7 linked regions of the Homo sapiens genome follow. The protein of the gene in region 1 purifies or fractionates together with the protein of each later gene. This does not show direct contact. Each region holds a gene or a part of one and is shown in the gene's direction. Other genes may lie near its edges. The genes, in order: GART, PFAS, MSN, AKR1C2, PLOD1, HIP1R and WARS1.

Region 1 (3,500 bases):
ACCGCACCTAGCCAAGTTAAAAAAAAAAAAAAAGAAACTTGTGGAAATCGTAAATCACTTCACGGTGTGAAATACTGTTGCTATTTGAAATCATATGTCAAATATGCTCTCTTCTAGGGTTTCCTGAGGCTCAAGCTCTAGGACTGGAGGTGTTCCATGCAGGCACTGCCCTCAAAAATGGCAAAGTAGTAACTCATGGGGGTAGAGTTCTTGCAGTCACAGCCATCCGGGAAAATCTCATATCAGCCCTTGAGGAAGCCAAGAAAGGACTAGCTGCTATAAAGTTTGAGGGAGCAATTTATAGGAAAGACGTCGGCTTTCGTGCCATAGCTTTCCTCCAGCAGCCCAGGTAAAACTCTAAGCAAGTTAGCTGTAGTGCCATTTCAGAAACTGGCCTAAATGGCTATGTAGAACATTTCATTAACCCTATAAGTCATTCAGTATTCTTTTCTCTCTGTGGGAGTGATACAGTCTTGGTTTGTATTTTGTTTGAATCAAAACTGGTTATAGCAATACTCAAATGGAAAAAACTTCATGATAGCGTAAGTTTGGAAAGTTTAGCAAAATCACAGTGGTACTGATTTTTATTTGTTTTCTATTTTTTTTATTTTATATTTTTAATTTTTTTAACAGGGTCTTCCTCTCTCGCCCAAGTTCTCATGCCTCAGCCTCCCAAATAGCTGGGACTACAGGCACAGGCCACCACACCTGGCTAATTTTTTTGTATTTTTTGTGGAGATGGGGTTTCACCATGTTGCCAAGGCCAGTCTGAAATCCTGGGCTCAAGTGATCCTCCTGCTTTGGCCTCCCAAAATGCTGGGATTATAGGCATGAGCCGCTGCACTTGGCCTGATACTGATTTTTATTCCTTGCGTTATCACATAGTGTTGTATTTGAAACATAGTTCATGGTTTTATCAAAGAACTGAAGATGAGAATACTGGTCATCTAACTTTGTAATTTGATTTGATTATACTGTAAAGTTTGACAGTCTCATTTTATCACTGCGTTTGTATCTATTACTAAAATGTATTTTTTGACCTCTTACTGATTCATTGTTGGTATGTACAAACTGTTGACTTGTAAAATCAATAAAGTCTTAGTTGGAAATGTGGGTGTTTTGATTTCTTTTTTTTTTTTTTTTTTTTTTTGAGACAGAATTTTGCTCTTGTCGCCCAGGCTGGAGTGCAGTGGCATGATCTCGCCTCACTGCAACCTCCACCTCCCGGGTTCAAGTGATTCCCCTTCCTCAGCCTCCTGAGTAGCTGGGATTACAGGTGCCTGCCACCGTGCCCAGCTAATTTTTGTGTTTTTGGTAGACATGGGGTTTCACCATGTTGGCCGGGCTGGTCTCGAACTCCTGACCTCAGGTGATCTGCCTGCCTCAGCCTCACCAAGTACTGGGATTACAGGCGTGAGCCACCGTGCCCGGCCTGATTTCTTAAAAATATATCACATTTGCTATTGTTCGTGAAGTTCATTTACGGATAATGAATAAATTTTAAGACAAAATTTTTTTACCAACGTAATTCAAGCTATACTGTTACCAAGAGGCAGGTTTTTTTAAAGTTTAAACACAGATTTTCCAAGAATCAAGAACATCAAAATACCAGGCTAAAAATTTATTTTTCATTTAAAAATGACTAGATTCCATTGAAATGACCTATTTCAAGGGACTGCAATCTCAATTCTAGTCTGAATTATTTAAGTTATAAAGATGAAAAAATGGAAATGCCACAGTGTTAGTTGCTACTGGAGAAAAGGTTTTTTAACATCAGTCTTTGTTTTCTATCTGAGAGTGACCCAGAGCTGCTGGCTTTATTTGAGTTAACTGCCAATGCACTCAACTGTATTCTGGCAGCTTTTTTGTTTTTTGTTTTTGTATGCTTTTTTTAAAGACACTTCTATAAAAACACATATTTCTTCATGTATCACTGCATCCCAGCAGGCCAGAGTTCTCATTTTTGCAAGTCAAGACTACAAAATCTGCAGTGTCATTCAAAAATTTGATCTCTAAATGTACTGCTCCGACTTGTGGGTCCTATACAGAAGGAAATGATGCACTGAGTATCTTTACCTGGTTTTGCTTTTGTCATAGTGTTTACTGTCCTCAGCTATTAGGAAACAGATACAGTTATATATTACTGAAATTAAGAACTCAGTTTAATTATTTAGGGATACTTGTGTACGGTTTTTACAAATCTAATTTTCACTTTTTTGACTTGATTAGGCATTCCTCTCTTGTTCATACCAAAATTGAACTGAGAAAAGTTGCAGCAAAATGTCAGTATATCTACTTTTAAACAGATGGTTGCCAGGGTCTGGGGTAGTGGGGAATGGGGAGTTATTTAACTGGGACAGACGTTCAGTTTTACAAGATAAAGGATTATGGAGATGGATGATGGTGCCGGGTGCACAGCATTATAATTGTATTCAATACTATTGAACTGTTCACTTAAAAATGGTTAAGATGCTGAATTTTATGTTGTGTATATTCTACCTTAATAAAAAATCATTTAAAAGAATCAGTATATTTAGCAGCCTGTGAGAAGTACTTGTAGAAGAAATAGGTGATTGAGTTAGAATAGCGGTTCTCAGGGATGATGTAATCAAGTCAACTGGGGAGATGGTTCAAACTCATTTCAATTCCCAGAGCCTGCCCTAGACCAGTTAAATCAGAATCTGTATAGATGTGGCCCAGGCACTGACTTTAAAAAAATTTAAGCACTTTAGGGTATGTGAAAATCACTTGGGATATCTTCTGCTTTAAATAATATTTTAAGATTAAAATAATTTTCCCTGACGTTTAGGTGATGACTTGTTTTTAATTCTTTAGGAGTTTGACTTACAAGGAATCTGGAGTAGATATCGCAGCTGGAAATATGCTGGTCAAGAAAATTCAGCCTTTAGCAAAAGCCACTTCCAGATCAGGTCAGTGATCCTATACTTTGCTAATTCATTAACTTTGATATACATTGTGAATGGATTTGGGTTTTATATTTAACAGGAATATTTTCCAAAGCAATGCTTGGTTACTGTAAGTTTTGCCCTGCTTAAGCCAAACCCAGTCTTCTGCTTTCTTTTCTTTAATATTAAAGTATTTCTCATCTGTCATGTTAAACTCAAAAGGATATGTATGCTCCTTTACTTTTTTTTTTTTTTTTTTTGAGACAAGAGTCTTGCCCAGGCTGGAGTGCAATGGCACCATCTCGGCTCACTGCAACCTCTGCATCCTGATTTCAAGCGATTCTCCTGCCTCAGTCTCCCAAGTAATTGGGATTATAGGCACCCACCATCATGCCTGGCTAATTTTTGTATTTTTGTAGAGACATGATTTCACCATGTTGGCCAAGCTGGTCTTGAACTCCTGACCTCAGGCAATCTGCCCACCTCAGCCTCCCAAAGTGCTGGGATTATAGGCATGAGCCACCATGTCTGGCTGGTCCTTTAGTATTTAATTACTTCCTTTTTTTTTTTTTTTTTTTTTGAGACAAAGTCTGG
Region 2 (3,500 bases), on another chromosome or scaffold:
GAGACAGGGTGTTACTTTGTCACCCAGGCTGAAGAACAGTGGTTCTGTCCTAGCTCACTGTGGCCTTGAGCTCCTGGGCTCAAGCAGTTCTCCTGCTTCAGCCTTCCAAAGCACTGGGATTACAGGTGTGAGCCATGGTGCCCAGCCAGAATAAACTTGCTTTATATAAGTAGAATGAGTACATTCTAAAATAACAGTAAAAAGTATAGTTGGTTGGGCACAGTGGCTCACGCCTGTAATCCCAGCACTTTGGGAGGCCAAGGCAGGGGGATTACTTGAGGCCAGGAGTTTGAGACCAGTCTGGGGAATACAGTCAGACCCCTGTCTCTAAAAAAATTAAGAAATAAAACTTAGCTGGATATGGTGGTGTACACCTGTAGTCCCAGCTACCCAGGAGGCTTAGGTGGGAAGATCGCTTGAGCCAAGGAGCTCAAGGCTGTAGTGAGCTATGATCATACCACTGCACTCCAGCATGAGTGACAGAGTGAAACCCTGTCTCCAAAAAAGAATAAAAATAAAAAATAAATGTAGGCTGAGTGTGGTGGCTCACGCCTGTAATCCCAGCACTTTGGGAGGCCATGGTGGGCAGATCACCTGAGGTCAGGAGTTCAAGACCAGCCTGGCCAACATGGTGAAACCCCCTCTCTGCCAAAAATTCAAATATTAGCTGGGTGTGGTGGCGCGCACCTATAATCCCAGCTACTCGGGAGGCTGAGGCAGGAGAATCACTTGAACCTGGGAGGTGGAGGTTGCAGTGAGCCAAGTTTACGCCACTGCACTCCAGTCTGGACGTAAGAGTGAGACTCTGTCTCAAAAAAAAAAAAATTTTTTTTTAAGTGTGGTAAATACATAAACCAGTAATAGTCATTTATTGTCATTATGAAGTATTATGTAGTATACATACAATAATGGTTTGCAGTATACTTTTGTGTGACTGGCAGTATAGTAGGTTTATTTACAATAGCATCACCCACCAGCGTGCCACGATGCCACTAGGCAATAGGAATTTTTCAGCACAATTATAATCTTAAGGGATCACTGTTGTATATGTGGTCTGTTGTTAAGCAAAATGTCATTAGTCAGCCCATGACCAAAATGGAATCATACAATATGCGGCCTTTTGTGTCTGCCTTCTTTCACTTAGCTTAATGTTTTCAGGGGTTATCCGTTGCATCAGTACTTTATTTCTTTTTATGGCTGAATAATATCCCATTATGTAGCTATGTCGCATTTTGTTTACCCATTCCTTAGTTGGTGGACATTGGGGTTGTTTCAGCTTTTTAGCTATTATGCATAATGCTGCTATGAACATTTATGTACAAGTTTTTTTGTTTTGTTTTGGTTTGGTTTTTTTGAGACGGAGTCTCGCTCTGTCGCCCAAGCTGGAGCGTAATGGCGCTTTCTCGGCTCACTGCAAGCCCCGCCTCCCGGGTTCACGCCACTCTCCTGCCTCAGCCTCCCGAGTAGCTGGGACCACAGGTGCCCACCACCACGCCCGGCTAATTTTATGTGTTTTTAGCAGAGACGGGGTTTTGCCGTGTTAGCCAGGGTGGTCTCTATCTCCCGATCTCGTGATCCGCCTGCCTCAGCCTCCCAAAGTGCTGGGATTACAGGCGTGAGCCACCGCGCCCGGCCTATGTACAAGTTTTTGTATGAACATATGTTATAATTTCTCCCAGGTATATAACTAGGGGTGGAATTGCTGGGTCATGTGGTAACTATGTTCAGCTTTTCAAAAAATTGCCAAACTGTTTTCCAAAGCAGCTGTACCATTTTACATTCTCTCTGGCAGTGTGTGAGGGTTCCAGTTTCTCCACATGCTTGACAACACTTGTTAATATCTGTCCTTTTGATTGTAAGGCATAATAGTGGGTATGAAGCAGTATTTCATTGTGGATTTGGTTTGTTTTTCTCTAATGACTAATGATGTTGAGCGTGTTTTCTTTCTTTCTTTTTTTTTTTTGTAGAGACAGAGTCTTGCTCTGTTACTCAGGCTGGAGTGCAATGGCGCAATCTCAGCTCACTGCAACCTCCGCCTCCCGGGTTCAAGCAATTCCCCTGCCTCAGCCTCCCAAATAGCTGGGATTACAGGCACGTGCCACCACACCTAGCTAATTTCTTTTGTATTTTAGTAGAGATGGGGTTTCACCGTGTTGCCCAGGCTGGTCTCAAACTCCTGAGCTCAGGTAATCCACCCGCCTCAGCCTCCCAAAGTGCTAGGATTACAGGCGTGAGCCACCGCACCTGGCCGAGCATGTTTTCGTATGCTAGTTAGCTATGCGTATATCTTCCTTAGAGAAACATCTATTCAGATCCTTTCCTATTTCTTTTTTCTTTTTTGAGATGGGATCTCACTCTGTCACCCAGGCTGGAGTGCAGTGGTGCGATCTCAGCTCACTGCAACCTCCATCTTCCGGGCTCAGGCAATCCTCCCACCTTAGCCTCCTGAGTAGCTGAGACTACAAGCTCCGGCCACCATGCCTGGCTAATTTTTGCATTTTTTGTAAAGATTGGATTTCACTGTGTTAGCCAGGCTGGTCTCGAATTCCTGAGCTCAAGCGATCCGCCCGCCTCAGTCTCCCAAAGTGCTGGGAGTATGGGTGAGTTCTCCCACAGTTTCTACCCTGGAGCCCCCAGGCTTCAGGACCCTTCCGCATCCAGAGGTTGCAGTGAGCCGAGATTGCATCACTGCACTCCAGCCTGGGCAACCGAGCAAGACCCCATCTCAAAAAAAAAAAAAGTTTTTAGTGTATAAGCCTTACTTCTATTGTTAAATTTATTCCTAATTATTTTTATTCTTTTTGATGCTACTGTAAATAGACATAGATATTTTTGCCTTTTTCATTTTTCGCTTAGCAGTATATCTTGGAAATAATTTCATATTGATGAAATCATATTACTTCATTACATTCCTATATTCTCTTTTTTTGGTGGCTTAGTCTTTCATTGTATAGACTTACCATAGTTTACTTAATGAGGTCTCTGTTGTCAGCCTTTAGGTTATTTCATGTACTTGCTAATACAAACGTTACTGTGGTGTTTAATCTTGTAAGTAGGTGATTTTATACCTGTGCAAATAAATCAGCGGGATGACTTCCTCAAAGTGTATTTACCCAATCAGAGACTGTGTGCATTTGTCATTTTGGTTGTTATTGCCAAATCGTCCTCCGTAGTTGATATCAGTTTACTCTCCTATCAACCCAGTCAAGTGGTAAGGCTTCTGGGCTAGGCAGGGTGGCTCACGACTGTAATCCCAACACTTTGGGAGGCCGAGGTGGGCGGATCACCTGAGGTCAGGAGTTTGAGACCAGCCTGGCCAAGATGGTGAAACCCTGTCTCTACTGAAAAAATACAAAAATTAGCCGGGCACGATAGCAGGCGCCTGTAGTCCCAGCTACTCAGGAGGCTGAGGCAGGAATATCGCTTGAACCCAGGAGACGGAGGTTGCAGTGAGCTGAGATCACACCACTGTACTTCAGCCTGGACAACAGAGCGAGACT
Region 3 (3,500 bases), on another chromosome or scaffold:
GTGTAGGCTGAAGGGAGGTAGAGAGAGGACACTAGTCACATTTTCCTGCTTGAGACTAGGCCTTGCTGTCCTAAGAAACTTTAGAGAGTAATTTCTTCATCGTATTCATAGCCAGAGGGGTTAGGCAGCTTGTTCGAGGTCACATATAGTTGGTAACAGTATTGAAAGGAGAACTTGGATTTCCTAATTCCCAAGTTAGTGGTCTCCCACTGGACTTGGCTGTCTTAGAAGGATGACTCCACCCAGAGAGCACAGACTTCCAGAGAACTGGCTCTGTGGTGATTACATTAACAAGATGGGTACAATGGAGTTCCCCTAAAATGGTTTTGCTATAGCAAGTTTTTCTGGGATCTCCGATGACTGTCTTCTCTTCCTGTCTACCCCTCACCCCAGTTCCCTGCTTTCTCTTTGCCCTGTTTAATTTTGAGCTCTGACCTTTTTGAATTCTGAATTCTGACTCAGCGCTCCAGCTTGATCTGTCCCTTGAGTTAGGAGAACAGTATGGCACTTTTTCAATTTAGTGACAGTATTTGCTGCTGTAGCAAATTGTTTGAATGCAGACTAGAATCTCCTGGCCTCAAAGTTCACCACTCACCTCTAGGTGCTTATAGGCCAAGCCTGGGGCAGGAAGCTAAAAAAAGACCTTTCAAGCCTCCGTGGAAAGGAAGCATAGAGTAGTGTTGAAAAACAGACTCTGGAACTAGACTGCCTGGACTCAAATCTAGCTCTGCGACCAACTAGTTATATAGCCTTGGACAAGTTATTTAACTTCTGCACCTCATTTTCCTTAACCATAAATAATAATAGTACTTACAGAGTTGCTGTGAGGATTACATGAGGTAATTTATGTAAAGGGCTTAGAACTGTGCCTAGAATCTAACAAGTGATATACAAATGTTATGATTATTTACTGAATTTTACTATATGCCTAACTTTGTGCTAGATGGGATGGATAAGAAAGAAGACAGGTAGTTGAATTCTTACCATTTAATGAGTGGTTACTATGTACTATTTACCATAAGGGATAGAAATAAATGAAGGGATGATACAACTGCTGCCTTCAAAGATCTCCTATCTCCTATTTAATTGGGGATTTAGGGCTAATTCACTTAAAAACGGCTTGAGAAAAATATATACTTTGCATTGCATTTTCTACAACTTTTTGAGGAGAAAGGGTTTACTGGGACATGAACAGGGCCTTAAAGGGTGTGTACACTTGGGAGCAGTGGCCGTTCTGGGTGGGAAAGTGATGTGTTTTTGGTATGTGGGTGTAAACCAATGGCCCTAGACCAATGCTCTCTTGAAAGTTACTTTATCTGAAGTGAAGGGAGGCTTGAGCTGCTGACTGATTCAAGGGGAGCCACAGATATAAGCATAGATGAAGCTACTCTTTCTAGGGTAATTTGGATCCAACAATCCTTTCTTAATTGGCAAACAAGGGCCTGTGGGGGAGACCATACCTTTGGTTTTCCAGAATTGGGCAAATTAATTTTTTTTTTTTTGAGATGGAGTCTAGCTCTGTTGCCCAGGCTGGAGTGCAATGGTGCAATCTTGGCTCACTGCAACCTCCGCCTCCTGGGTTCAAGCGATTCTCGTTCCTCAGCCTCCCAAATAGCTGGGATTACAGGCATGCGCCACCACGCCCAGCCAATTTTTGTATTTTTAGTAGAGATGGGGTTTCACCATGTTGGCCAGGCTGGTCTTGAACTTCTGACCTCAGGTGATCCACCCGCCTCAGCCTCCCAAAGTGGTGGGATTACAGGTGTGAGCCACCACGCCCAGCCTGGGCAAATTAATTTTTAAAAATGTTGCTTTTGTTGCCTAAGTAGGTATGTGAGAGGGTCTTTTCTTCATGCTTACACATGAACTAAACCAAAGAATAGAGCTTGGCAATAACTTTATGTCAGCAGCCTAGAAACAGCTTTTAATTCTCTCATTGACTTTGCTATAAAATCAGGTATTTGGGAAAGGGTGGAGATGGCAGGGAGGATTTCTCAGTGTGTGGTTGTTAGAGGTGGAGGAGTATGACGTTTTCTGGCCAGGGCACAGCTGCAGCATCTGGGTCTTGAATTTGGAGAAAAGGCCTTTTGGGCGACTTTCAAAGCACAGCCCTTTGTCTGTGCCTAATGACACAGATACCAGATCTGATGCTCCTTTCAATCGGCTTGTTGTGGCATAAGGTAAGTGTTGACATAGCTCTTAGGCCACTAATATGGCAAATGGCTCTGTGCTTGCTTAGTAGAACTGTTTTGCCAGTTATCTTCTGTGATTGGTGACTTCGAATATTGAAGTTTCTTCCCATTCCTGGCAACCCTTCTACCTTGTGGGAATTTGATAGATACTTTGTGCATCCAGGGTAGTGATCAGGGCCTAATGAGAGAAGAGTTGAGATATGACAATTTGGTTGTACAAAACAAGATATAATCCTGAAAATTTTTTTCCTGGGTATATATTTGGGAAGTGACTGGGGCCAAGGCCTAGGAGGGGGAACAAGGCATACCTGTCAGGCTTGATCAGTATTTCTTTCCCTCTCTTTAGCCTTGGCCTCCATTAAATACCTGAGAAGGATCAAGTCTTATTTTTCTCAAGTTGTGTGTTTAGATAAGGTTCCTGATCTTACTTTCGTGATCTAATCTGCCTTCCCTCCAACCCATGATCCATTTCCTTTTTTTTCTTTTCTTTTTTTTTTGAGACGGAGTCTTGCTCTGTTGCCCAGGCTGGAGTGCAGTGGCATGACTTTGGCTCACTGCAACCTCCATCTCCTGGGTTCAAGAGATTCTCCTGCCTCAGCCACCCAAGTAGCTGGGACTACAGGTGTGCGCCGCCACGCCCGGCTAATTTTTATATTTTTTTTAGTAGAGATGAGGTTTCACCATGTTGGCCAGGCTGGTCTTGAACTCCTGACCTCGGGTGATCTGCCTGCTTCAGCCTCCCAAAGTGCTGGGATTACAAGCGTGAGGCACTGCGCCTGGCTGATCCATTTATTTTTTCAGATTCTCAGCCTGGATGTTTGATGAAGCTCACCAAGAGCCTCTTTTATCTGTTGTAATTTTTAACTGAGGTTGACTAATCTATGGTATAGAGTTGGAGGGTGAGGGTCAAGGTAACAGTCAATCTGGGCATCATTAGTTAAGTCGTACAAATCTTTGCTATTTTCAAGGGTTTTAAGTGAGCTAAACTCCTCTCCAAACATCCTTGTAGATACTTGTGGGAGACTGACTAATTCCTTTACAAAGAAGAAAAGTCACATAACTTCTTTGCCTTTTAATTTTCTTTTTCTCCAACATGAAAATATCAGCAATATTAGAAAGAGGCACATGGAGTTTGCGTGTGGTGGCTCATGCCTGTAATCCCAGCACTTTGAGAGGCTGAGGCAGGTGGATCATTTGAGGTCAGGAATTTGAGACCAGCCTGGCCAATATGGTGAAACCTTGTCTCTACTAAAAATAGAAAAAATAGCCGGGCGTGTTGGCGGGAGCCTGTAATCCCAGCTACTTGGG
Region 4 (3,292 bases), on another chromosome or scaffold:
AAACAATAATTTACGTTTCTAATCTAACCAAGTGTGTTGCGTATGATAGGCAGGTAGTAAGTAATATGTAAAGTAATAAAATAAAGTACAATTACTACCAGTATAATTATCACACTCAAAATTGTTTATTAGTGATGAGCATATATCTTCCTTATTCCTCTTCAATGTAAGGCAGAAGGAGTTCCTGTTTTTAGTGAGAATTTGAAATAGAAAAGGTCAGAATATCTCTTTGTTGACAGATGTGGGATCTGTTGTTGAGAGATGTAGAGAAACATGTTTGAACATTTCACTTTGTGTGTTTTATGTGTTAAGTTCCAGGCAGGGGAATAGAATTAAATTATTCTTTATTTTGAAAATACAGATATGATAAAGTCACGTTCATTAAACAAAGAAACACAGATTCTAGAGCAGTCAGAAAATGAACTTCTTAACATCTACACTAGCGGCAGCTTCCTAGAAATCACTGCGCTACGGGCTAGTAACGGAGTCATTGCCATTCAGAGTGTGCATTTTTTTTTCTCTTTCCAGTTTTGCTGGCCCCCCTAATTATCCATTTTCTGATGAATATTAACATGGAGGGCATTGCATGAGGTCTGCCAGAAGGCCCTGCGTGTGGATGGTGACACAGAGGATGGCTCTATGCTGGTGACTGGACACATCGCCTCTGGTTAAATCTCTCCTGCTTGGCGACTTCAGTAAGCTACAGCTAAGCCCATCGGCCGGAAAAGAAAGACAATAATTTTGTTTTTCATTTTGAAAAAATTAAATGCTCTCTCCTAAAGATTCTTCACCTACTTTGGTCTCCATAACTTCTATGTTTTCTCTCCTTCTGACACACTAGTGCCCCCAAATTGTGATTTGCCTATACGTTTAGGGCCGGGGTTGGAAGATGTTAACAACCATTTAAGATTCATTTCTGCAGTGGGAGTGGGTGGAGTTTCACCCTCTGGGAAAGGGGCAGGTGACAGGTATTTATCAGTCAGTGCCTCTCTAGCTCTTGTAGGAAGAAGCACACGCAGGATGGAGTCTAGAGGATGAGCGATATTGACTAGCAATTCATGGGCTCCCTCCAGCAGTGCGAGGGTCAGAGTTTCTGGAGCCTTGGGAGGAGGCATCCCTGTGAGGGGGGGTTAGGGAGATGGGAGGGCACCAGGAAAAGTGATTAGAAGTCAGGTATGGGAAGGCTAAATAGGACAGAGTCGAGTACATCTCTGCTTGGAAAAACATATCAACACCCTTTTTTTTGATCATTATATCTTGTTCATAAAAGAAAACTTTCCACATTGTTTTAACAAACCCCACAGCTGAGAGTCAGGCCTGAATCTTTGATGTGTGCCCATTCACAACGTTGACCCTATTGGTTTGTGGTGGGGCAGGACATCGAAGATATCATTGACTCATCACATTCCCCTGAATAGCTCATATTTAGAAAATATTCTTAGATTGTAAAAATGTACTGTTCATTTGTTATATGCAATCTTTTAAATGTTTTATACTTTAAACAAGGCATAGTTACAAGTATAAAACATAAATATCCCAAAGCCATTATGCATGGCACTCAAGATTAAAATGGGAAATAATACATCTAATAAATCAAATGTTCCAAGACTTCAAATGTCTTTTGGAAACAGGCTATGTAAAACAGCACACTGGTTTCAAACTTTGGTAAATTTTAAGAAGAACTCTTACAAAGGCATTTAATTCTTATACATAATTTTCAGGGGAACTAATCAAATCAGCTAATCATGAAGACATGATTTTCGTTTTAGAAAACACTTTTGAAAACTTGGGATAATCTCATGTCTTAATGATCAAAGCATTATGAGAAGGACAGTGGTTTTTTACCTGGGCACACTTTCTAACACATTTACTCTCCACTATTCGTACTCTGGTAGCCATGTTAACCCCATCAGAGATTCCTTCTCAAGCCATGTCTCAGAGCTGATAGGCATCCCAGCAAGTTTTGCAGCTCACAATTTTTCTGTAAATTACTTATTCTATAAAATTGGAAGAGGCCATAAACTTTGGAGGGCCCTAGACCAATTTTTTGGATTATTTCTGGTCTACTCTCATTCCGTTGATGATCTTAGATATTCTCTGCATTAAATATCACCTCTAGGCTGAGAAATCCACCAAAAAATATTTCTAGCTCAGCGTTTTCCTCCAAATCTTCAATGGAAGATCATAATGTGAACTCTGCATCTCCATGTTAAAGTTTAATGGACATTCACACTTAGCATGTCTCAAAGAAATCTCATGTAAACCATGGCCATCCTGTTCTACCTTAACTTTCTGAGTCTATGGAATGATAATTTCACATCTCATAAACTTGACTGATGTAAGTGTCAAGAAAAGATTGACATTTTGTTAAAACTTCGTAGCCAAGTGTGTAACGCTTAAGCAGACTTTCATATTTCAAATCTCTATAGCACGTGTAACTCTTTTTTCAAGATGTGAAATAATCATTAGGTCAGTCATTTGTAAATAGTACGGCTGCTGTGGGCTTTTTCCAGTTCTTCACCATCCATTTTTATAAAACTCTTATTGTTAAAAAAAAAAAGTTACTCAGAATTTCATAAAGCCAAACACCTGATTTCAGGAACACTTGAGATGTAAGAAAATTTTATAGGGACCTCCAATCACTAATTTTCCTATTTTTTCTCTCAAAGAAATGCTGAAGGGAGGAATTCAGGTTGAATGAAAGGAAATAGTAACTTACAGCCATATAGAGTTATAAAGACTTCTTGTAAATGTGAACATATGGTAAAATATAAAAACATGTATTTTTGAAATTTTGGATTCTACTCATTATTTTACTTCAATTTAAGATATAAATGTATAGAAATAAGTATAATTCTAAGCTAATACGTATGCAATGTAGGAAGCTGTAATTACTGACCAAAACTATGTGAAGTGGAGAAAACCTGGGGAAGTGGATGGTTTTAGATGAAACTGAAGTTAAATTCATATTGATTTAAAGTAAATTGTCATAACTTTATAAAGTTTTTCATCATCACCACAGCAATCACAAAGAGAATAATTATGAATATACGCAAGAGGAAATGAGAAGGGAATCCAAATGTCATTAAAAAAAAATCACGCCACCTCACAAAATGGTAACAGTGGATATAAAGGATAGAAAGCTATAAACCTGGTAGGAAAACATTGAAAATGGCACAAGTGACTCCTTCCCTGTCACCAATGACAGTCATGTGTTGCATAATGCCTGGGCTATCTTCTGAGAATGGCTTTGTTAGGCAACTGTGTCATGGTGGGGACATGATAGCATTAG
Region 5 (3,500 bases), on another chromosome or scaffold:
AGACCATCCTGGCTAACACGATGAAACCCCGTCTCCACTAAAAATACAAAAAATTAGCCAGGTGTGGTGGCAGGCGCCTGTAGTCCCAGCTACTCGGGAGGCTGAGGCAGGAGAATGGCATGAACCCGGGAGGCGGAGCTTGCAGTGAGCCGAGATCGTGCCACTGCACTCCAGCCTGGGCGACAGAGCGAGACATTGTCTTAAAAATAAATAAATAAATAAAGATGCAAATTCACACACATCACTTAATGACTTTCCACTGCACGGAGAATAAAATCCACAGGCCTCTTTTCAACCTTAGATGGGGATCTGCCATCTGCCCTCAACAGACACTTTTTTCCACTGGTCCAGAGTAAGCACAGTCCAGATGGCCTTGCCCTGGCCCAGGCCCAGGAGTAGGGATGTCCCATTGCTCTTGTGGTTGCTTGTCACCAGTCTGTACTCTAGCCAGGGGCCCATGTGGGCTTCCCCACTATGCCAGGTCTCAGCCCCCAAGGCACTCTGTGAGCTTGGCCCAGCCTTTCCCTTCTCTGGGCCAGGTTTCCCAGATAACTGTAAAAAGGGACACCAGGCCTGTATCCTCCCAGCCCTGCTCTCCAGGGGCTCCTCGTACAATCCGTTTCTTCACCACCTATATGGTGCCCAGCACTGAACAGTACAGCTTAGTGGGCACCATTGGTCTTATTCTTGGGGTCATTAGGAACTCATTAATAAGTGACATTCACTGGCAGCCCCATTTCCAACCTGCAGCCCCACCTCCTGTCAATTCAGGAGGACTTCTGAGAGGTGACAGGGTTTGTGGGCATATGAGTGGAGGTGGATAAGAGGGAAGGGTGGGAGGAGGCCCCTGACTTAGAGGCTGGAAGCTAAGGGTCCGTCTTGGTGTCCCCACCCACCAACCTTCAGGCTTCATCGGTTATGCCCCCAACCTCAGCAAACTGGTGGCCGAGTGGGAGGGCCAGGACAGCGACAGCGATCAGCTGTTTTACACCAAGATCTTCTTGGACCCGGAGAAGAGGGTAAGAGGCAGTGGGCGGGCCAAGGAGAGGGGGCTGGGGATCCACCGGCCAGGCTGCACGGGAACAGCTCCTCTCAGGCCTGAACCCCTGGGTTGGTGTCTTAGTCTATGCAGGCTGCTCTGACAAACTGCCATAGGCTGGGTGGCTCCCAAACAACGGATGTGGATTTCTCATGGTTCTGGAGGCCGGAAGGGTGAGATCACAGTTGGGTTCTGGTCAGAGCCCTCTAACTGGTACAGACACAGCTGACTTCTCTCTGTGTCCTCAGATGGTGGAAGGGGGTAGGGAGCTCACTGGGGCCTCATTGATAAGGACACTAATCCTATTTTTTTATTTTTGGGATGGAGTCTCACTGTATTGCCCAGGCTAGAGTACAGTGGTGCGATCTCGGCTCACTACAGCCTCTACCTCCCTGGTTCAAGCGATTCTCGAGCCTCAGCGTCTCGAGTAGCGGGGACTACAGGCGTGCACCACCACGTTTGGCTGATTTTTGTATTTTTAGTAGAGACAGGGTTTCACTACGTTCGCCAGGCTGGTCTCGAACTCCTGTCCTCAGGTGATTTACCCGCCTCGGCCTCTCAAAGTGCTGGGATTACAGTCGTGAGCCACCGTGCCCGGCTGTCGGGTCTTAAAGAGGCAGCATTGTTCATTGGTTCAGAATAAGGACTTCAGGGCCAGGCTGCCTGGGTTCCAATCCCAGCTCACCATTTACTAGCTGTGTGACATTGGGCAACTTCTCTGTCCCTTGTTTTTTCCGTTATGAAATGCAATAATGGGCCAGACCCAGTGGCTCATGCCTGTAATCCCAGCACTTTGGAGGCCAAAGCGGGTGGATCACCTGAGGTCAGGAGTTTGAGACCAGCCTGGCCAACATGATGAAACCCTGTCTCTACTAAAAATATAAAGATTAGCCGTGCGTGGTGGTGGGTGCCTGTAATCCCAGCTACTCAGGAGGCTGAGGCAGGAGAATTGCTTGGACCTGGGAGGCGGAGGTTGCAGTGAGCCGAGATTGTGCCATTGCACTGCAGCCTGGGTGACAAGAGCCAGACTCCATCTCAAAAAAAAAAGCAATAATGATAATACTTTCTCACAGAGATGTTGTCAGGATTAAATTGATTAATATATGTAGAATAGTTTATTTATTTATTTGAGACAGGGTCTCACTGTCACCCAGGCTGATGCGCAGTGGCAGAAACATAGCTCACTGCAGCCTCAGCCTCCCGGACTCAAGCGATCCTCCCACCTCAGCCTCCTGAGTAGCTGGGACTATAGGCCTGCGTCACCATGTCTGGCTAATTTTAAGATTTTTTTATAGAGATGAAGTTTTGCTATGTTGCCCAAGCTGGTCTCAAACTCCTGGGCTCAAGTGATCCTTCTGCCTCAGCCTCCCAAAGTGCTGGAATGACAGGAGTGAGCCACCGCACCCGACTCGTGTAGAATATTTGGAGTAGCGGCCAGGTGCGGTGGCTCACACCTGTCATCCCAGCACTTTGGGAGGCGGGGGGCGGGGGCGGATCACCTGAGGTCAGGAGTTCGAGACCAGCCTGCTCAATGTGGTGAAATCCCATCTCTAGCAAAAAAAAAAAAAAAAAAAAAAAAAATTAGCTGGGTATGGTGGCACATGCCCGTAGTCCCAGCTACTCAGGAGTCTGAGGCAGGAGAATCGCTTGAACCCAGGAGGCGGAGGTTGCAGTGAGTCGAGGTCGTGCCATTGCACTCCAGCCTGGGTGACAAGAGCGAAACTCTTTCTCAAAAAAAAGAATATTTGGAGTAGCTATGTGCGTGTAGTGGAGTGCTTGGCAGGTGCTGGTTACTCTTAACGGCCGTCATTGTTGTAGGTGAGCCGGCTGCATTCTTAGATTCCTTCCAGTTCAGAGTCCCTGGTTTTCTGTGAGTAGAGCCACTAGACTGTAGACCCCAGGAGCTTGGCTGCTGGCCTTCTCTGGGCACCTAGCTGCCCTGATGTGACGTGGCAGAGTCGGTGTGGGGAATGAGGGCTGAACTTGGGGACAGATTCCCCACACTGGGTGAGATGTAGCCCCAGCCTCCCCCAGGGCCTGTCCCTGCTGCAGTCTGGTACCTTCTTTCCTGCAGGAGCAGATCAATATCACCCTGGACCACCGCTGCCGTATCTTCCAGAACCTGGATGGAGCCTTGGGTGAGCAGCCCCCACGGGGAGGGGTGGATCCTCAGAGGGGTGATAGGAAGAATTCCAGGCAGGGCCCGAGCCCAGGGAGGAGAAATGGGCTGCTTCTTTCTGGCCATTGTGCTGAGAGGTCACTGGCCTCATCCCCAGGTCCCCAGGGGCCACTTGGATATCCTGGCGCAGAGCCATGTCTCTCTTGGGGGCGGGGGACAAGTGAGCATTCAGCCTGGGAGGAGTTGGGGGATGCGCACAGCAGGTGCTGGACCCCCTGCCCTGCATACCAGGTCCTTACAGGTGGGCCCTCTTTCCCCACTTTCCCGGCCCTCCCACCTTCC
Region 6 (3,500 bases), on another chromosome or scaffold:
GGTTTTCCCAGGGGCGACAGTGGGAGGGGCAGCACGGGGAGATGCTGCCTGCCTTTGAGGGCCTGGCCCAGGGCGCTCCACACGCATAACCAGTGGGCCCTCCAGCGTCGAAGTCACCCGGGCCCTTTAGTCCTCACGAGTTGGGAAATGTGGCAAGACCACAGCCCGGGCACCTCGGTGGTTAGAGAGCCTGTGGCAGGGCGCAGGTTCCTGGGCTCCCCCAGACCTGCTGCTGAAGAATCAGGACTGGAGGTCTGCATTTTGAGCACACACACAGTAAGGCCTGAGAGCCCTGGGGGGCCTGCAATCTGGATGCACTGCAAGACCTCAGGAGTTAGAGATGTCCCTGGTGGGCAGAGGGCCTTGGCCTGGTTCTCTCTGGAGCACTGTGGGGTGCTCGTCTGCCTGGGCAGGGACATAGGAGCAGGGCAGGCCCTGGACCGGGTACCCACAGGGAGGCCTGACCAGGGCGTTATCCAACCCAGAACCACTGCCCGGACTCACTTCCCTTGAAGCGAGGAAAACACTGCCCATGGTGCCACCTGCAGATGCAGGCCCAGCTGGCCCGGCCGCAGGGGCCGTGGGGCTGGAGGAGGGAGCAGGGAGGATGTGTCCAGGCGCCCGTCGGGACGTGCCTCCCTGCCAGCACCAGCACTTTAATAAAGCGTCCCTGCTCAGAACTGGCCTGCCGCCCTGGACAAAGAGCTCTCTTCTCACAAGAGTTTCTTTGGCAGGAATGACAAGGAGGAAGATTAAGGGAAAAAGCTAGAGACAGAGAGGGTGGTTGGTGGAGGCCAGGAGAAGACGTTTGTTGAATGAAGAAGTGCCCGGTGGTGGGTCACTCTCGTGCCCAGGTCCTTGAGGACTCTTGGACGTGTTCACGAGCCGTGGCCCCTCACCCTGTCTGTCTTCACACAGGGACATTTGCATGACCGCTACGGACAGCTGGTGAATGTCTACACCAAGCTGCTGCTGACCAAGATCTCCTTCCACCTCAAGGTGGTTTCCTCGGGGGAGTCATGGGGCTGAGGGACCCGTGGGCTTTTCCCACTGTGACGTTATGGCACATGTTGGGACATCGAGGGTGGGATCTGTCCTCTCCATGAGTCTTTCCATTCACCTTCTTGTCCCAACTATGACTAAAGGGGAGACGGGGAAGCCAGGGCATCACGAAGCTCCTAGAACACTTCAGGCATTTCCGTGGACGTGGGCACGGGCTTCCCCAGGCGTTTCTGTGGACATGAGCGCTGGGCTTCCTCAGTCTCTGCTGTGCTGGCCGGGTGCTCCCCTCCTCCCAACCCCTCCACTGCCCTCTGCCACCTATGTGGGCCACAGCCTGGGTCTGCCAAGAGCAGGGTCCAGCGTGGGGCCCCCTGGTTCAGTGGCCGCTGGGTTGGGGGGGCCCTGGTTCAGTGGCCGCTGGGTGGGGGGGGCCCTGGTTCGGTGGCCGCTGGGTTGGGGGGCCCCCTGGTTCGGTGGCTGCTGGGTGGGGGGGCCCTGGTTCGGTGGCCGCTGGGTGGGGGGGGCCCTGGTTCGGTGGCCGCTGGGTGGGGGGGGCCCTGGTTCGGTGGCCGCTGGGTGGGGGGGCCCCCTGGTTCGGTGGCTGCTGGGTGGGGGGGCCCTGGTTCGGTGGCCGCTGGGTGGGGGGGGCCCTGGTTCGGTGGCCACTGGGTGGGGGGGGCCCTGGTTCGGTGGCCGCTGGGTGGGGGGGCCCCCTGGTTCGGTGGCCGCTGGGTTGGGGGGCCCTGGTTCGGTGGCCGCTGGGTGTGGGGGGCCCTGGTTCAGTGGCCGCTGGGTGGGGGGGAGCCCTGGTTCGGTGGCCGCCAGGTGTGGGGGGGCCCTGGTTCAGTGGCCGCTGGGTGGGGGTTCTCTCCACAGCATCCCCAGTTTCCCGCGGGCCTGGAGGTGACAGATGAGGTACTGGAGAAGGCAGCTGGGACCGATGTCAACAACATGTGAGTCACTCTGCATGGCTACATAGCCAGTTCCCCTCGGCTTCCCCATTCCTTCCTACCGCGTCTCACGCCCAGGCGTCCGCATGGGGCAGTGGGGTTGAATGAGTCCGTGGCTTTGTTGGTTGATGCTCACGCTCCCAGGGACAGAGGGTGAAGTTAAAAGGGTGGGGTGTACTTGAAGGACTGTCGTCCTGGCAGAGGCACGCTGTCTCACCAGAGCCATGGTGTCGGCGGTGCCCCCGTCCCCACTGGAGGGGGCGTCTCAGGACGAGTGGGTGGGTCCACCCACCCTTTTTCATTTCTTCCCCCACTTCTCTTGCGTAGCTTCCAGCTCACTGTGGAGATGTTTGATTACATGGATTGTGAGCTGAAGCTTTCTGAATCAGGTGAGCCGTAAAGAGGGGATGCGGGGGTCTGAGTGTATTGCTAAGTCCCCAGAGATGGGACGAGAAGAAAAAAGAAGACATGAGTGATCAGACCAACTGATCACTATGAAATGACCCTGGCCAGCCGCAGTGGCTCACATCTGTAATCCCAGCATTTTGGGAGGCCGAGGCAGGCAGATTGCTTGAGGTCAGGGGTTCAAGACCAGCCTGGCCAACATGGTGAAACCCTGTCTCTACTAAAAAAATATAAAAATTAGCCAGGCGTGGTGGCGCACGCCTGTATTCCCAGCTACTTGGGAGGCTGAGGCAGGAGAATCACTTGAACCTGGGCGGCGGAGATCATGCCGCTACACTCCAGCCTGGGCAACAGAGTGAGTCTCCGTCTTAAAAAAAAAAAAAAGAAAAAGAAATGCCCCTGCCCCTCCTGGGGTCCCTGCACCTCCAGGGATAGGTAATGGGGCCTCCTGGCCCCTCCAAAGCATGGCAGGCCCCAGCGGGTACATCCAGGATACAGGTTCAGCCATCTCTTCCATCCAGTGAGTGTCACTCCATCAGCCCCAAGACAGGGAGGGTGAGGAGGTGTGCACAGGAGCCACCTTGCCAGGTTCCTGCCCCAGCCTTGGGCCATCTGCAGAGCCCAGCTGGAAGAAAGGTTTGGGTCGTCCTGCCATTTTCTGCTCTAGAAAGCCTCTGAGTCACGTCAGACTTCCTAGCGAGGGAACCCGGCCGCTGTTGGACAGGAAATCTCAGAGGGCTCAGCTTCCAGGCTGGAGAACTGATTGTTCTGGGTGGCAGCTTCAAAACAACTCATGGGTGACTCAGTGCTCTCCATAAGAGGGCAAGAAGCAAATGCCTCCTTAAGGGAAAATTGGGAGTTAGAGGCAGTTTGGGCAGCCTCCCTGAGTCCCCAGGTCTGGCCAGTGCAGCTGGGCGAGCCTGATGGGTATTCAGTTCCAGTGGGTGGGAGGTGGGCTCAGAGTTGGACCCTTGTGCCTGGGAAGAGCCTGCTCAGGATCTGACATGGAGAGCAGAGGGCAGGTGTCCAAAGGTGTGGCCCCAACTGTGCAGCAGGACAGGGCTACCAGGCTCTGTGTCCTGGCAGAGATGTGCTGAGCCTGAGCCTCTCAGCACAGAGCCCACCAGGTAGGAGCCAGTTACC
Region 7 (3,500 bases), on another chromosome or scaffold:
CTGGGATTACAGGCATGCACCACCACACCCAGCTAATTTTGTATTTTTAGTAGAGATGGGGGTTTCACCACGTTGGTCAGGCTGGTCTCAAACCCCTGACCTCAGGTGATCTGTCCACCTTGGCCTCCCAAAGTGCTGGGATTACCAGCATGAGCCACCACGCCAGCCTTGGTTATAGTTTTAAATGTATTTTTCCTTTATCAACATTGGGATGCCTGTGGTCTAAAGAGTCAGGGGTTCTCAAAGCCTTTGTGAAATACAGTGGCCCTCCAGCCCACCTCTCCCTATTTCCTGCTCAATTCTTTTAGCCGATCTTTTGGTTATGTACTCCCCATATCTGTAAATATTCTGCTTATCATATTGTTCCTTGTTGATTTTCAAGTTGGGGTCTTTCAGGTGGAAATGAAGCATTCGTACCTTCACAACCACTTCCCGTCCAGGCAGTCTCCCCATCTGTATTGCAGTTGTAGTTAGGTCAGTATCTGTACACTGACATTATTATGACCATGGAAATAGACGTGGACAGCTGAACCATCACGGATAGAATGAGTACTCTAACTTTCTCGCCCAGCTTTTGTTTTCTCTGGAGTTAATATTTGTCTTAATATCTGTTTGCTTGACTTTTTTATGTCAATGATACTAATGATAATGTATCTCCAAGCCCTTTCCCTGTCCAGTGAATCTCCTTTCAACACACATCAACTAGTCTATCAAGTTCATCTTCTTGAGGCGATCTCTCCCAAAACCTTCTGCCTGCTTCCCTCTGAAGTGGGGGCTCTTGCTTCCTACACTGCCCATCTTGGCGTCTTTCTTCACTGTCGACCCAAGGGGTTCTTTCACCCCTGTCGATTGGGTGCCCCGTTTCCTGCTCCTGCATCTTTATTCCTCTTTGCTTTACTCTTTGGGCAGAGCAAATCTTCCAATTGTTTCTGAAAAAAATATTGCAAAGGAAATATTTCTAGGGGGATCTTGCCCATCTGAAAGCGTATTTATTTTACCTAAAACATGATTGATAGCCAGGCTGGGTGTAGGGTTCTAGCATGGAAGTGATTTCCCCTGGAAATGCTGAAGCCACTGCTCTATTGGCACCTAGCTTCTGGGCTTGCTGCAGAGAAGTCAGTTGCCATTCCTTTGTTTTTTCTTTTTGGAAGTTAGCAGGATCTTCTTTGTTCCCGTGTTCTGAAATTTCATGGGATGCAGGTTCAGTATGCCTTTCTTTTTTTTTTTTTTTTTTTTTTTGCCACCCCACCCCCGCCCCCCGAGATGGAATCTCACTCTTTCACCCAGGCTGGAGTGTGGTGGCACAATCTCGACTCACCGCAACCTCCGCCTCCTGGGTTCAAGCAGTTCTCCTGTCTTAGCCTCCCAAGTAGCTGGGATTACAGGCATCCGCCACCATACCAGGCTAATTTTTGTATTTTTAGTAGAGACGGGGTTTCACTATATTAGCCAGGCTGATCTCAAACTCCTGACCTCATGATCTGCCCACCTCGGCCTCCGAAAGTGCTGGGATTACAGGCGTGAGCCACCACACTCAGCCTGCCTTTTAGACTAGAAACTCATGGCCGTTAATTCTCAGAAATCATGATTTCTTTGATCTCTTCTGTTTTCTCTCTTCACAGACTTTTTTTTTTAATTCAGAGACTGTTTCTCTGATTTTCTAACCCTCCTATTGTTTTCCATTTCTGCTATCATTTTTAACTTCCAGGAGCATGTATGCTCCCTGAAGTTTCCTCACAGCACTCTGCCCTGACTCATAGGTACAGTACCACCCTTTTCTCTCTGAGATTTTTTTTTTTAATCTTATTTTACTGTATTAAATCTTACTAATATTCTGTAAGGGACAAACCAGACGAGTAGGCTACAGTGAAGAAATCTTATTTTGGAGAGTTAAGAAACCACTATGATACTTCCAGGTATTATCTTCAGTGATGCTTCTTATCTTTATTCAGGGACTCCAGGTAATATTCAGCTCCTACAGCTACCACAAATGCAGCAAATCCCCATTTGAATCCTTTAAACAATACATCAAAAAAGGAAACACTCTTTGCAAAGCCACCCATGTATCTTCAAGCTTCATTGTGGCCCCACGGATCCCTTAGCCCTTTTTCAGCCAGCTTCTTCTGGATAGTTTCTAATGGTGTCCCTTCTGTCTTCCGTTGTCTGTAATCTAGAAGTTCCATTTTACGATGTCCATGCTCATGTCCATGTCCATGGGCCATGTCTGACAGCAATCTGACCTCTCAGGACACTCAACTCTCTCTCTCTGAGATCTTAATGGTAGTTTTCCATATGTCCTCTACATCCTTTATAACCTCAGTTTCTTCCATCTTAATTTGTTTTCTACCTGCCTTTCATATTAGAGGCAATTCTCAACTGTTTGGTGTTTCTTGGCTATTTGCTGGTGTTTTGGGGGGTGCACTGAAAGCTGCTGGATGCACTCTTCATTGGGGAAGAGCTTATCAACATAGGTTCCACTTCCTGGAGAGTGACCAGGCTGCTCCCCTTTTGTTGGGGAATCTTTCGTGTCAAGGTCTTTAGATCTTTTCTTTAAAGTTAAGTGAGATTCCCCAGAGAAAGCTCCCCCAGTCCACTGTTCAGAGGGGGTGAGTCCCGCTGCCAGAGTTCTACGGCTGAGTGGGAGAGAAGGGCTGGGCTGTGGGATCCTTCCCCGAAGCTCCCTATTCTCTGTGTGCTGCCAGTGCCCCAACTGTGCAGACTGCCCCCAGTCTAGGCACCTGTAACTCTGTCCTCTCTTGACATGAAACCTTGGAATGGAGGGGAAACTGTGACACTCCCTTGGCCGAGGGGAGAGGGATTCTCAATAACTGCTTCTTGAAGAGACTTCAACCAGCGCTCCTGTTTTCATAACCCGCTTTCCTGCCCCCACTCCTGTAAGTGCGCAAGGTCACTAAGGCCCGAACCTTTGGGTGATTCCGTAACAGTGTACACTCGGTCACCTTCCAGTATTTCCATGATGTCTTAGCATTTGTTTTTCTCTCATGCTGTTAGGCACTGATCATTCATCAGCTTTCTGGCTTCTGAAACCTTGTTGCTGTCATCCTCTTCTTGTTTCCTTTGTCCTTGTGGGATTATGCTTTAAAAAAAAAAAAAAAAAAGAAGATCTCTGCTTTTGTTGTAGTAGATTTCAGAAATATCATCATCAATACGCATCTTTAACTAGAACATAAGCATTTCATTTCCTTCTGGGGTGACTCCACTCCGGCTTCTCCATGACTTCCATCACTTTTTTTTTTTTTTTTTTTTTGAGGCTGAGTCTCACTCTGTCGCCCAGGCTGGAGTGCACTGGCACAGTCTTGGCTCACTACAACCTCTGCCTCCTGAGTTCGAGCGATTCTCCTGCCCTGGCCTCGTAAGTAGCTGGGACTGCAGGCGCCCGCCACCACACCCGGCTAATTTTTGTATTTTTAGTAGAGAGGGGGTCTTGCCATGTTGGCCAGGCTAATCTTGAACTCCTGATCTCAGGTGATCCGCCCGCC

What was found.
Region 2: the proteins of GART (region 1) and PFAS fractionate together in Homo sapiens (co-fractionation; one large-scale study listed by BioGRID). This does not show direct contact.
Region 3: the proteins of GART (region 1) and MSN fractionate together in Homo sapiens (co-fractionation; one large-scale study listed by BioGRID). This does not show direct contact.
Region 4: the proteins of GART (region 1) and AKR1C2 fractionate together in Homo sapiens (co-fractionation; one large-scale study listed by BioGRID). This does not show direct contact.
Region 5: the proteins of GART (region 1) and PLOD1 fractionate together in Homo sapiens (co-fractionation; one large-scale study listed by BioGRID). This does not show direct contact.
Region 6: the proteins of GART (region 1) and HIP1R fractionate together in Homo sapiens (co-fractionation; one large-scale study listed by BioGRID). This does not show direct contact.
Region 7: the proteins of GART (region 1) and WARS1 fractionate together in Homo sapiens (co-fractionation; one large-scale study listed by BioGRID). This does not show direct contact.

What each region holds. Positions count from the first base shown.
Region 1 is NC_000021.9:33,521,618-33,525,117, reverse strand, and holds part of GART (trifunctional purine biosynthetic protein adenosine-3), read left to right. Parts: intron 1-117; coding exon 118-349; coding exon of another isoform or gene 350-353; exon of another isoform or gene 354-1,109; intron 1,110-2,835; coding exon 2,836-2,930; intron 2,931-3,500. UniProt on the Homo sapiens protein: Trifunctional enzyme that catalyzes three distinct reactions as part of the 'de novo' inosine monophosphate biosynthetic pathway.
Region 2 is NC_000017.11:8,259,289-8,262,788, forward strand, and holds part of PFAS (phosphoribosylformylglycinamidine synthase), read left to right. Parts: intron 1-3,500. UniProt on the Homo sapiens protein: Phosphoribosylformylglycinamidine synthase involved in the purines biosynthetic pathway. Catalyzes the ATP-dependent conversion of formylglycinamide ribonucleotide (FGAR) and glutamine to yield formylglycinamidine ribonucleotide (FGAM) and glutamate.
Region 3 is NC_000023.11:65,674,154-65,677,653, forward strand, and holds part of MSN (moesin), read left to right. Parts: intron 1-3,500. UniProt on the Homo sapiens protein: Ezrin-radixin-moesin (ERM) family protein that connects the actin cytoskeleton to the plasma membrane and thereby regulates the structure and function of specific domains of the cell cortex.
Region 4 is NC_000010.11:4,987,275-4,990,566, reverse strand, and holds the end of AKR1C2 (aldo-keto reductase family 1 member C2), read left to right. Parts: intron 1-528; coding exon 529-571; 3' UTR 572-2,792; downstream 2,793-3,292. UniProt on the Homo sapiens protein: Cytosolic aldo-keto reductase that catalyzes the NADH and NADPH-dependent reduction of ketosteroids to hydroxysteroids.
Region 5 is NC_000001.11:11,951,717-11,955,216, forward strand, and holds part of PLOD1 (procollagen-lysine,2-oxoglutarate 5-dioxygenase 1 isoform 2 precursor), read left to right. Parts: intron 1-906; coding exon 907-1,019; intron 1,020-3,113; coding exon 3,114-3,177; intron 3,178-3,500. UniProt on the Homo sapiens protein: Part of a complex composed of PLOD1, P3H3 and P3H4 that catalyzes hydroxylation of lysine residues in collagen alpha chains and is required for normal assembly and cross-linkling of collagen fibrils.
Region 6 is NC_000012.12:122,848,957-122,852,456, forward strand, and holds part of HIP1R (huntingtin-interacting protein 1-related protein), read left to right. Parts: intron 1-918; coding exon 919-999; intron 1,000-1,878; coding exon 1,879-1,955; intron 1,956-2,279; coding exon 2,280-2,341; intron 2,342-3,500. UniProt on the Homo sapiens protein: Component of clathrin-coated pits and vesicles, that may link the endocytic machinery to the actin cytoskeleton. Binds 3-phosphoinositides (via ENTH domain).
Region 7 is NC_000014.9:100,365,348-100,368,847, reverse strand, and holds part of WARS1 (tryptophan--tRNA ligase, cytoplasmic), read left to right. Parts: intron 1-1,804; exon of another isoform or gene 1,805-2,260; intron 2,261-3,500. UniProt on the Homo sapiens protein: Catalyzes the attachment of tryptophan to tRNA(Trp) in a two-step reaction: tryptophan is first activated by ATP to form Trp-AMP and then transferred to the acceptor end of the tRNA(Trp).